Linked DNA regions of Homo sapiens. The protein of the gene in region 1 interacts with the protein of each later gene in a pairwise test. Each region holds a gene or a part of one and is shown on either strand. Other genes may lie near its edges.

Region 1 (6,063 bases):
TCCACGCCAACCTTTCCCAGAACCACAGGCTTCCAGAATGTTGTAGGGAAACTGCAAAATCCGCGCCTCCACCAGCCTCTCCCAGCGCCAGGTCAATTTCACACACAGGGAAACTGAAGCCTGCCTCAGAGGGGCAGCGTTTTACCTCCTTAGTGGCAGTTTTGAGGTGAATCGGGGTCTCCCTAGGATTCCAGGTTGTGCACTTTCTCTAAATTGTGGAATGTGGCCAGGCGTGGTGGCTTGAGTCTGTAGTCCCAGCTACTCAGGAGCCACAGCAGGAGGATGGCTTGAGCCCAGGAGTTCAAGTGCAGTGGGGAAACATAGGGAGACCTCGTCTTAAAGCAATTTGTTTGGGGCCAGGCGTGGTTTCTCAGGCCTATAATCCCAGCACTCTGGGAGGCCAGGGCAGGAGTATCACTGGAGGTTGGGAGTTTGAGACCAGTCTGGCCAATGTTGTGAAACTGCATCTCTACTAAAAATACAAAAATTAGCAGGGCACGGTGGCAGGCGCTTGTAATTCCAGTTACTCAGAAGGCTGAGGCAGGAGAGTCACTTGAACCCAGGAGGCAGGCGCTACAGTGAGCCAGGATTGTGCCACTGTACTCCAGCCTGGCCAGACAGAGTGAGGCTCTGTCTCAAAAAAAAAAAAAAAAAAATTGGGCCGGGTGCAGTGGCTCATGCCTGTAATCCCAGCACTTTGGGAGGCCGAGGCAGGCAGATCACAAGGTCAGGAGATCAAGACCATCCTGGCTAACACGGGGAAACCCCGTCTCTACTAAAAAATACAACAAATTAGCCAGGCATAGTGGTGGGTGCCTGTAGTCCCAGCTACTCGGGAGGCTGAGGCAGGAGAGTGGTGTAAACCCGGGAGGTGGACCTGCAGTTAGCCGAGATCGCGCCACTGCAGTCCAGCCTGGGCGACAAGTGAGACACCCCCTCAAAAAAAAATTGATTGGAACATCCTCCAGGGTGCAAGACCCTCGGTTCCTCAGAGTTCTACAGGAAGGATAGCAGAGTGCAGTTGCCCAGAGGTGAAGTCCCATCTCTGCCATTTGTTGGCTGTGTGACCAGGCACAAATCATTAATTTCTCTGAGCCTGTATTTTACCATCTGTTGCTATTGAGTAATAGTAGTTGAATATTTTCTACTTTTATTTTTATTTTATTTTTATTTTTATTTTTTTTGAGACGGAGTCTGGCCCTGTCACCTAGGCTGGAGTGCAGTGGCGCGCTCTCGGCTCACTACACCTCTGCTTCATGGGTCCAAGCGATTCTCCTGCCTCAGCCTCCTGAGTAGCTGGGAGTACAGGTGCGCACCACCATACCCAGCTAATTTTTGTGTTTTTTTTTTAGTAGAGACAGGGATTCACCATGTTGGCCAGGCTGGTCTCAAAGTCTTGACCTCAGGTGATGCACCCACCTCGGCCTCCCAAAGCGCTGGGATTGCAGGCGTGAACCACTGCACCCGGCCGAACATTTTTATCTTTATTTTATGATTATTATTATTATTTTTTTAAGATGGAGCTTTGTTTTTGTTGCCCAAGCTGAAGTGCAATGGCGCGATCTTGGCTCACTGCAACCTCTGCCTCCTGGGATCAAGTGATTCTCCTGCCTTAGCCTCCCAAGTAGCTGGGATTATAAGCATGCAGCACCACGCTGGAGGATATTTTGTATTTTTAGTAGAGGTGCGGTTTCTCTATGTTGGTCAGGCTGGTCTGGAACTCCTCACCTCAGCTGATCCACCCACTGCAGCCTCCGACAATGCTGGCATTACAAGTGTGAGCCACCATGCCCGGCCTTATTTTTATTTTTATTTTTTTTGTGAGACAGAGTCTCACTCTGTTGTCCAGGCGGAAGTGCAGTGGCACCATCTTGGCTCACTGCAATCTCGGCCTCCCGGGTTCAAGCGATTCTCCTGCCTCAGCCTCCTGAGTAGCTGAGACCACAGGCGTGCAGCACCAGGCCTGGCTAATTTTGGTATTATCAGTAGAGATGTTGTTTCACAGTGTTGGCCAGGCTGCTCTCGAACTCCTGACCTCAAGTCATCCACCCGCCTCAGCCTCCCAAAGTGCTGGGATTACAGGTGTGAGCCATAGTGCCTGACCTGTAGTTGTTGAATATTTATTATTAATCTACAAGTTGGGTGTGATGCAAGTCCTATATATGGAGTCCCCCAAACTTCTAGAGCAAGGGCTTCCCCATAATCCTGGCAGGCAGGCCTCCCCTGGGGTTTCCAACTTCTGACCCCACTGAAGTGTTTATCCTCTTCTCTAATCCCAGCCTCCTTTTCCCTGTCTCCATGTGCTCTGAGAGATGCTCTGAGAGATGCTCCCACTCCCCCAGGCTCCCTCCGCATCCCCCTCATTTTCCTCCTCCCCAGTGTGTCAATGGAGTCCTAACCCCATCCTCGACATTGTCGCCTTTTCCTCCTCCAGAGTGGGACCTTCTTTTCCCCCGAGTGGTCCTGTCTAGGGGTGCCGCTGCCGGGCCCCCTCTGGTCTTCCTGCTGGAGACTGGAGCCTTTCGGGAGTCAGCAGGCGCCCGGGCCAACCGCAGCCAGCGAGGGGTGAGCGATACTTCACCGGCGAGTCATCAGGGTGAGCTGGCCGTGTGCGATGCAGTCAGTGTCTGGGTGACAGACCCCTGGACTGCTGTGGACTTGGGTGTGCTCGAGGTGGAGGTGTTGGGCGAGGTGCCTGCAGCTGTCGGCAGTTCCCTCCGCCAGCACTTCTTTGTTGCCCACTTCGAGGCCGATAAATCTGAGGAAGGTGGCCCGGGGGTAGGTGGAGGGGGCTGCCGCCGGGGTGTGGACCGGGGGGCACTGGGTGTCTGAGTGCAAGGCCAAGCAGTCCTATGTGCGGGCATTGACCGCTGATGCCCAGGGCCGTGTGGACTGGCGATGGATTCAAACTGGCACAGCCTGTGTCTGCACACTCCTCAGCCGGACTGGCCGGGCCTGAGACTTATACCCAGGAACTGGTCAGGCAGAAAAAGAACAGAGCTGGATGCTGAGAGACCTCAGGGTTGGCCCAGCTGCTCTACGGACGGACCCCAGTTGGGGAACTCATCAAATCATCACAAAATCACAACTCTCTGAATTTGAGCTCAATCTCTGCAGGATGGGTGCCACCACATGTGGTTTTGAAGGTTGAATAGGAGCTCTCCCAGGGGAACTTGAGGGTAATCATGATGATGATGATGATGATGATAATAATAATAGCCACTATTTACTGAGTGTTTACTCTTTCGTAGCCCTAATACATAACTCCTCGGATCAACTCTCATGGATTTGATCATTGGTGACCTTTGGTGTTAAGTTGCTGACTGCTCAGTCACAGAGGACACCACCTTGCTCATCCTGGGGAGTGGGAGGGCACATTTCACGATGTGCATGGGGGAGGAGGGAAACTGGAACATGCAAGCAGATGGCCAGGGGACCTTGAGGACATGGTCTACAGAAGGCCTTTAAGTATCTGGGAGCTGGGGTTCAAATGAGAAATCTTACTTGGTGAGAGCAGGCAGGGGTTGGCTTAGAATATTCTGTTTTGAGATAAAGAGCTACCGATCACACGGGGAGTATAAGCAAGGTTCAATGAGAAGTGATCAGGATGCTGGAGAGTTCAGCCCTGGGCGGGGAGCTCAAGTCAGGTTTCTAGCCCTCTTCCCTGTGCCAACCTATACCCTACATTGGGAAAGAAACAGACCTTAAAATTGTCCAGCTTGATGGCATCGCGGGGAAGGGACTAAGTCCAGATAATGTCCTCCGAGGCTTCGGCCCCATGGGCAGGACACACCTCCTGCGGGCCTATTCAATAATCAGTTAAATCACCTGAAGCACACGCATTTCCGGGGACAGCTCCGGGCATCCTGGCTTGAGGGTAGGGTGGGCGGAGGTCCCTAAGGGAGAGGTGGGGCTCGGGCTGAATCCCTCGTTGGCGGCACCAGGGTCAAGTGGCTTCCCTGGCAGCACAGTCACGGGGAGGCCCTCTCTCATTGGGCAGAAACTAAGTCCGAAGCCGCGCCCCTCCTGGGAGGTTGGACTGTGGTGCAGGAAAGCCTCAAGTAGAGGAGGGTTGAGGCTTCAGTCCAGCACCTTTCTCGGGTCACGGCCTCCTCCTGGCTCCCAGGACCCCACCATAGGCAGAGGCAGGCCTTCCTACACCCTACTCCCTGTGCCTCCAGCCTCGACTAGTCCCTAGCACTCGACGACTGAGTCTCTGAGGTCACTTCACCGTGGTCTCCGCCTCACCCTTGGCGCTGGACCAGTGAGAGGAGAGGGCTGGGGCGCTCCGCTGAGCCACTCCTGCGCCCCCCTGGCCTTGTCTACCTCTTGCCCCCCGAGGGGTTAGTGTCGAGCTCACCCCAGCATCCTATCACCTCCTGGTGGCCTTGCCGCCCCCACAACCCCGAGGTATAAAGCCAGGTACACGAGGCAGGGGACGCACCAAGGATGGAGATGTTCCAGGTAAGACTGCAGGGCCCCTGGGCACCTTCCACCTCCTTCCAGGCAATCACTGGCATGAGAAGGGGTCAGACCAGTGTGAGCTGTGGAAGGAGGCCTCTTTCTGGAGGAGCGTGACCCCCAGTAAGCTTCAGGTGGGGCATTTCCTGAAGGTGCGGATCTGAAATGTTGGGGTATCTCAGGTCCTCTGGGCTGTGGGGTGGGCTCTGAAAGGCAGGTGTCCGGGTGGTGGGTCCTGAATAGGAGATGCCGGGAAGGGTCTCTGGGTCTTTGTGGGTGGTGTACCACGCGGGATGGGAAGGCCAGGACTCGGGGCTGCGGTCTCAGACCCGGGTGAAGCAGTGTCCTTGTCCCAGGGGCTGCTGCTGTTGCTGCTGCTGAGCATGGGCGGGACATGGGCATCCAAGGAGCCGCTTCGGCCACGGTGCCGCCCCATCAATGCCACCCTGGCTGTGGAGAAGGAGGGCTGCCCCGTGTGCATCACCGTCAACACCACCATCTGTGCCGGCTACTGCCCCACCATGGTGAGCTGCCCGGGGCCGGGGCAGGTGCTGCCACCTCAGGGCCAGACCCACAGAGGCAGCGGGGGAGGAAGGGTGGTCTGCCTCTCTGGTCAGGGGCTGCGGAATGGGGTGTGGGAGGGCAGGAACAGAGGGCTTCCTGGACCCCTGAGTCTGAGACCTGTGGGGGCAGCTGGGGAGCTCAGCTGAGGCGCTGGCCCCAGGCACATGCTCATTCCCCCACTCACACGGCTTCCAGACCCGCGTGCTGCAGGGGGTCCTGCCGGCCCTGCCTCAGGTGGTGTGCAACTACCGCGATGTGCGCTTCGAGTCCATCCGGCTCCCTGGCTGCCCGCGCGGCGTGAACCCCGTGGTCTCCTACGCCGTGGCTCTCAGCTGTCAATGTGCACTCTGCCGCCGCAGCACCACTGACTGCGGGGGTCCCAAGGACCACCCCTTGACCTGTGATGACCCCCGCTTCCAGGACTCCTCTTCCTCAAAGGCCCCTCCCCCCAGCCTTCCAAGCCCATCCCGACTCCCGGGGCCCTCGGACACCCCGATCCTCCCACAATAAAGGCTTCTCAATCCGCACTCTGGAGGTGTCTTTCTGTGGGCTCAGGGCAACCACACACACACAGGATGGGTCCAGCTTCCAAACCATTTTATACAGAGTCACAGTATGAGAACTCTGGTAGAAAACAGTGTGGGGTCGGGGGATGACATCGCAACTTTACTCTACATTGGGAAAGAAACAGACCTTAAAATTTTCCAGCTTGATGGCCAGGTGCGATGGCTGATGCCTGTAATCCCAGCACTTTGAGAGGCCAAGACAGGCGAATCACCTGAGGTTAGGAGTTCAAGACCAGCCTGGTTAACATGGTGAAACCCCGTCTCTACTAAAATTACATAAAGAAATTAGCTGGGCGTGTAGGCGGGTGCCTGTAATCCCAGCTACTCTGGAGGGTGAGGCAGGAGAATCGCTTGAACCCGGGAGGCGGAGGTTGCAGTGAGCGGAGACTGTGCCATTGCACTCCAGCCTGGGCAAAAAGAGGGAAAGTCCGTCTCAAAAAAAAAAAAAAATTGTCCAGTTTGAGTGGGACAT
Region 2 (4,264 bases), on another chromosome or scaffold:
CAACCACCTGACTGGAGAATCCTGCACACCTTCAGGAGAGGATGATACAGATTTTTGTCCTACTGGGGTGGATTAGTCCATTTCCACACTGCTATAAAGATACTACCCGGCCGGGCGCGGTGGCTCACGCCTGTAATCCCAGCACTTTGGGAGGCCGAGGCGGGTGGATCATGAGGTCAGGAGATCGAGACCATCCTGGCTAACAAGGTGAAACCCCGTCTCTACTAAAAATACAAAAAATTAGCCGGGCGTGGTGGCGGGCGCCTGTAGTCCCAGCTACTCGGGAGGCTGAGGCAGGAGAATGGCGTGAACCCGGGAAGCGGAGCTTGCAGTGAGCCGAGATTGCGCCACTGCAGTCCGCAGTCCGGCCTGGGCGACAGAGCGAGACTCCGTCTCAAAAAAAAAAAAAAAAAAAGATACTACCCAAGACTGGATAATTTATAAAGGAAAGAAGTTTAATCGATTCACAGTTCCACATGTCTGAGAAGGCCTCAGGAAACACAATCATGGCAGAAGGCAAAGGGGAAGGACCTTCTTCACATAGTGGTGGGAGAGAGAAGTAAGAACAGGGGAAATGTCAGATGCTTATAAAACCATCAGATTTTGTGAGGTACATACACAGAGCCAAACCATATCATGGGGTAACCCCCAGAAATTATTTTATTTTATTTTATTTTACTTTATTTTATTTTTTGAGATGGAGTTTTGCTCTTCTTGCCAAGGCTGGAGTGCAATGGCACGATCTCAGCTCACTGTAACCTCCACCTCCTGGGTTCAAGCGATTCTCCTGCCTCAGTCTCCCAAGTATCTGGGATTACAGGCACCTGCCACCATGCCCATTTTTCTATTTTTTGTAGAGACAGGGTTTCACCATGTTGGCCAGGCTGGTTCTGAACCCCCGACCTCAGGTGATCCACCTGCCTCGACCTCCCAAAGTGCTGGGATTACAGACGTGAGCCACTGTGTCCGGCCCTCCCCCAGAAAGACTTTAATGTGAGGAGAGATTTGTAGCTACTGTCCCCAGGAGTCCCTTTATCTACAGGACACAAAAGAAGAGGACAAGACAAGAGATGTGGCTTTCTAAACATCAGGGAGAGTGTTTGGAGCAGGGCTGTGGGGAAGCAGCCTGACAGCAGGTCAGGATAGGATAGAGGGCAAGTAGGGAGCACCCAGCAGGAGAGAGAAGGCCAGGACAGAGGCTGGCCCCTACTAGGAGCTATTCACACTGGCTCTAACTGTAAAGACTCATGAGAAAGTTCAAGCAATCTCAATTTGTTAAACAGCCATCATCACAAACCTCAAGTTCTTCTCTCCATGTACCTATAATTATGCATGGACACATGCCTACATGCACTTAGGTGCACACACACACACACACACACACTCTCACAGAGATATGGGCATGTGTGTGCTTAGTGGAAAGCCCACAGCAGTAACTGGCTCAGTTTAAAAAACAAGTTTGGGGGCTGGGACATTGGCTCACGCCTGTAATCCCAGCACTTTGAGAGGCTGAGGTGGTCAGATCACCAGAGGTCAGGAGTTCGAGACCAGCCTGGCTAACATGGCAAAACCCCATCTCTACTAAAAATACAAAAATTTGCTGGGCGTGGTGGTAGGCATCTGTAATCTCAGGTACTCCGGAGGCCGAGGCAGGAGAATCGCTTGAACCTGGGAGGCAGAGGTTGCAGTGAGCTGAGATCGCACCATTGCACTCCAGCCTGGGTGACAAGAGCGAAGCTCCATCTCAAAAAAACAAAAACAAAAACAAAGAACCACTAATTTGGGCCAGAGGCTTTTCTCACAATCCCAAGGATGCCAGAGGCTGGAAGGTGGTTGCCACCTCACCTCAGCAGTTGTCACTCCAAATCCCACACCCATCCTACCCTACCAGTGACAGGGCTCTGACAGGCCTGGCACCTCCCTGACATGGGTTTGTGGCTTTGTGAGCTGAGTCCACAGAGGGGGTACAGGCTCATTTCCCGTGCTTCTACATTTCCTTGAGGAGGCTAGATAACAACCTGCTCACTGTCTGCTGTTTCCTGGCCACTTCTAGACCCTCTATTCTGCTCTGGGACCACAACAGTGGCGTTCATCCTCTCATCATGTGCCATAGGAGGGACCAGGGCGGAAACCATTAGGGGCTTCTCCAGGGGCTGCATACCTGGGCTGAGGCCCAGGGACGTTCCCAGAAGAGCTTGGACTTCCTGGGAGGAGGAAGATGGGTAGATAGAAGTAAAGCAAGAGTTGTTTGGATTTTCTCTATACCTGGAAGAATCAGGAAATGATAAAACTGCTGAGTGGTTGAGTTTGAGGACACCTACCAGGTCCAGTTCCCCCTTCCTCACCCCCACCACTGCCCCTTTATAGAGGAAGAGGTACAAGCCCAGAGAGATGAAGAGAACTGCACAATCCCTTAGGCTTGGGAGTTGCAGAACCAGGCCTGGAACTCAAGTCCTGCCATGCCAAGAGCACTGTACTTTTCATTTCATCTTGCTGTAACCACCACAGTGCTCCGTGCATGGGACAAAATGATGCATTCAGGAAGCGTGTGACAGTTGGTCACTCTAAGTGCAAGAGTTTCATTGCACCTGGGTCCATGGGTGCCACATTAGAGACAAGAACAAGCACATGCTCTGGAGTGGGATAGAGCTTGGCTTGAATCACTTACAAGCAACTGAGGTGGATTTTTGAACTTCAGTGGTCCTCATATGAAGTGAAGTGGACTAAAAATGTCTACCTCAGGCTGGTAGCCGTTATAACATTAGCTGATGTTTGTGAAGTGCCTGACACTTGACTCAGGATCTGGAGACTGAGGGTCAAACTGTTTGCTCATTAGCTAAGGGACCTTATTCACATTGCTTACATATTCTGGTCTTTTGATTCTTTATCTGACAAATGACTACCTAGTAAGGAACAAACACACTGGCATATGCAAAGGTAGAATTATGGGGCTGGCTGGCCTCTCTGAGGGATCCAGCTCTGCTTTCTCAACCCTGGTCTGAGTCATTATCCTGAAGATGGATGTATTTGGGTGTCAAGAAAGGAGGAAATGAAAGCAGGCACCCAGATTTCCTTCTGATGAGAATATTATTTTCTTTTTCTAGTACCTCCAAGTGTTCAGAAGATGTGTGACCAGACAAAACACAGTAAATGCTGCCCAGCAAAAGGCAATCAATGCTGCCCACCACAGCAGAACCAGTGCTGCCAGTCAAAAGGCAATCAATGCTGCCCACCAAAACAGAACCAGTGCTGCCAGCCAAAAGGCAGTCAATGCTGCCCACCAAAACACAATCACTGCTGCCAGCCAAAACCCCCATGCTGCATTCAGGCCAGGTGCTGTGGTTTGGAGACCAAGCCTGAAGTCTCACCCCTTAACATGGAGTCTGAGCCCAACTCACCGCAAACTCAGGACAAGGGCTGTCAAACCCAGCAGCAGCCCCATAGCCCACAAAATGAGTCCAGGCCAAGCAAATGAGAGCAGAAGAAGTCAAACAAAGAAGAAGTCCCTGGGGCCATGCCTTTCACTTTGTAGGGTGGGGGATTACTGAGAGTCAGGCTAGACCTGTGTTTAGAGAAGCAGTTTTCACAGTGACTACCATTTCCACCCAATGAGAGGCTCCTATTTCCCATCATAGCTCCCTACCCTAGGGAGGCCTCCATCTGGAAATGGGAGGATGAAGAGGCTAGAATCATCTTTCCTAGTGATCCTGACATTTAGACAGCACAGAAATAAAGAGCAATAAAAAGAACATTGCCTCCGTTTGTTCCTTTACTTACTTGTGAAACCATCTCACCAGCCTGGCCTAGAGCCCAAGAAAATATTATGGGCATGTCCTGGAGGTCCAAGGAGCAAGAACTAGCATCCTGAAGAACAAAACCTCTGCTGAGCTGGAGTGTAGTTGACTGACTCATCTTGGTTTTAAAATGAAAGTCCTGCATTCCAGGAACCCCTTCAGTCCTTATTAAAAAAAAAAAAAGATTATTGGTCACTCAAAGTGCAAGAATCCTAATTCCTCTGGGTCCCTGGGTACCACATTGCACTCCAGACCAAGCAAAAATATGTAAGTCCCTTGGAGTGATTCCACCCCCGCATCCAGAAATTTTAGATGGAGGTAGAGTCCCCAGGACTCAGCAAAGCACAGTGGCTAGCGGCAAAGAGTGAAATCTTCCAGGATCAGCACTGGCTCCTCAGTCACAGAGTAGCAATCTTAAAGCAAGTGGTTCAGTGTTTCTGACACTCTATTTCCTCGTGTGTAAAATGAAG

The links.
Region 2: the proteins of CGB3 (region 1) and SMCP interact in binary tests that used the Homo sapiens proteins (3 or more experiments, as listed by UniProt).

Annotation. Positions count from the first base shown.
Region 1 is NC_000019.10:49,022,358-49,028,420, reverse strand, and holds CGB3 (choriogonadotropin subunit beta 3 precursor), read left to right. Parts: upstream 1-4,087; 5' UTR 4,088-4,449; coding exon 4,450-4,464; intron 4,465-4,817; coding exon 4,818-4,985; intron 4,986-5,220; coding exon 5,221-5,535; 3' UTR 5,536-5,552; downstream 5,553-6,063. UniProt on the Homo sapiens protein: Beta subunit of the human chorionic gonadotropin (hCG). hCG is a complex glycoprotein composed of two glycosylated subunits alpha and beta which are non-covalently associated.
Region 2 is NC_000001.11:152,881,299-152,885,562, forward strand, and holds the end of SMCP (sperm mitochondrial-associated cysteine-rich protein), read left to right. Parts: intron 1-3,104; 5' UTR 3,105-3,124; coding exon 3,125-3,475; 3' UTR 3,476-3,749; downstream 3,750-4,264. UniProt on the Homo sapiens protein: Involved in sperm motility. Its absence is associated with genetic background dependent male infertility. Infertility may be due to reduced sperm motility in the female reproductive tract and inability to penetrate the oocyte zona pellucida.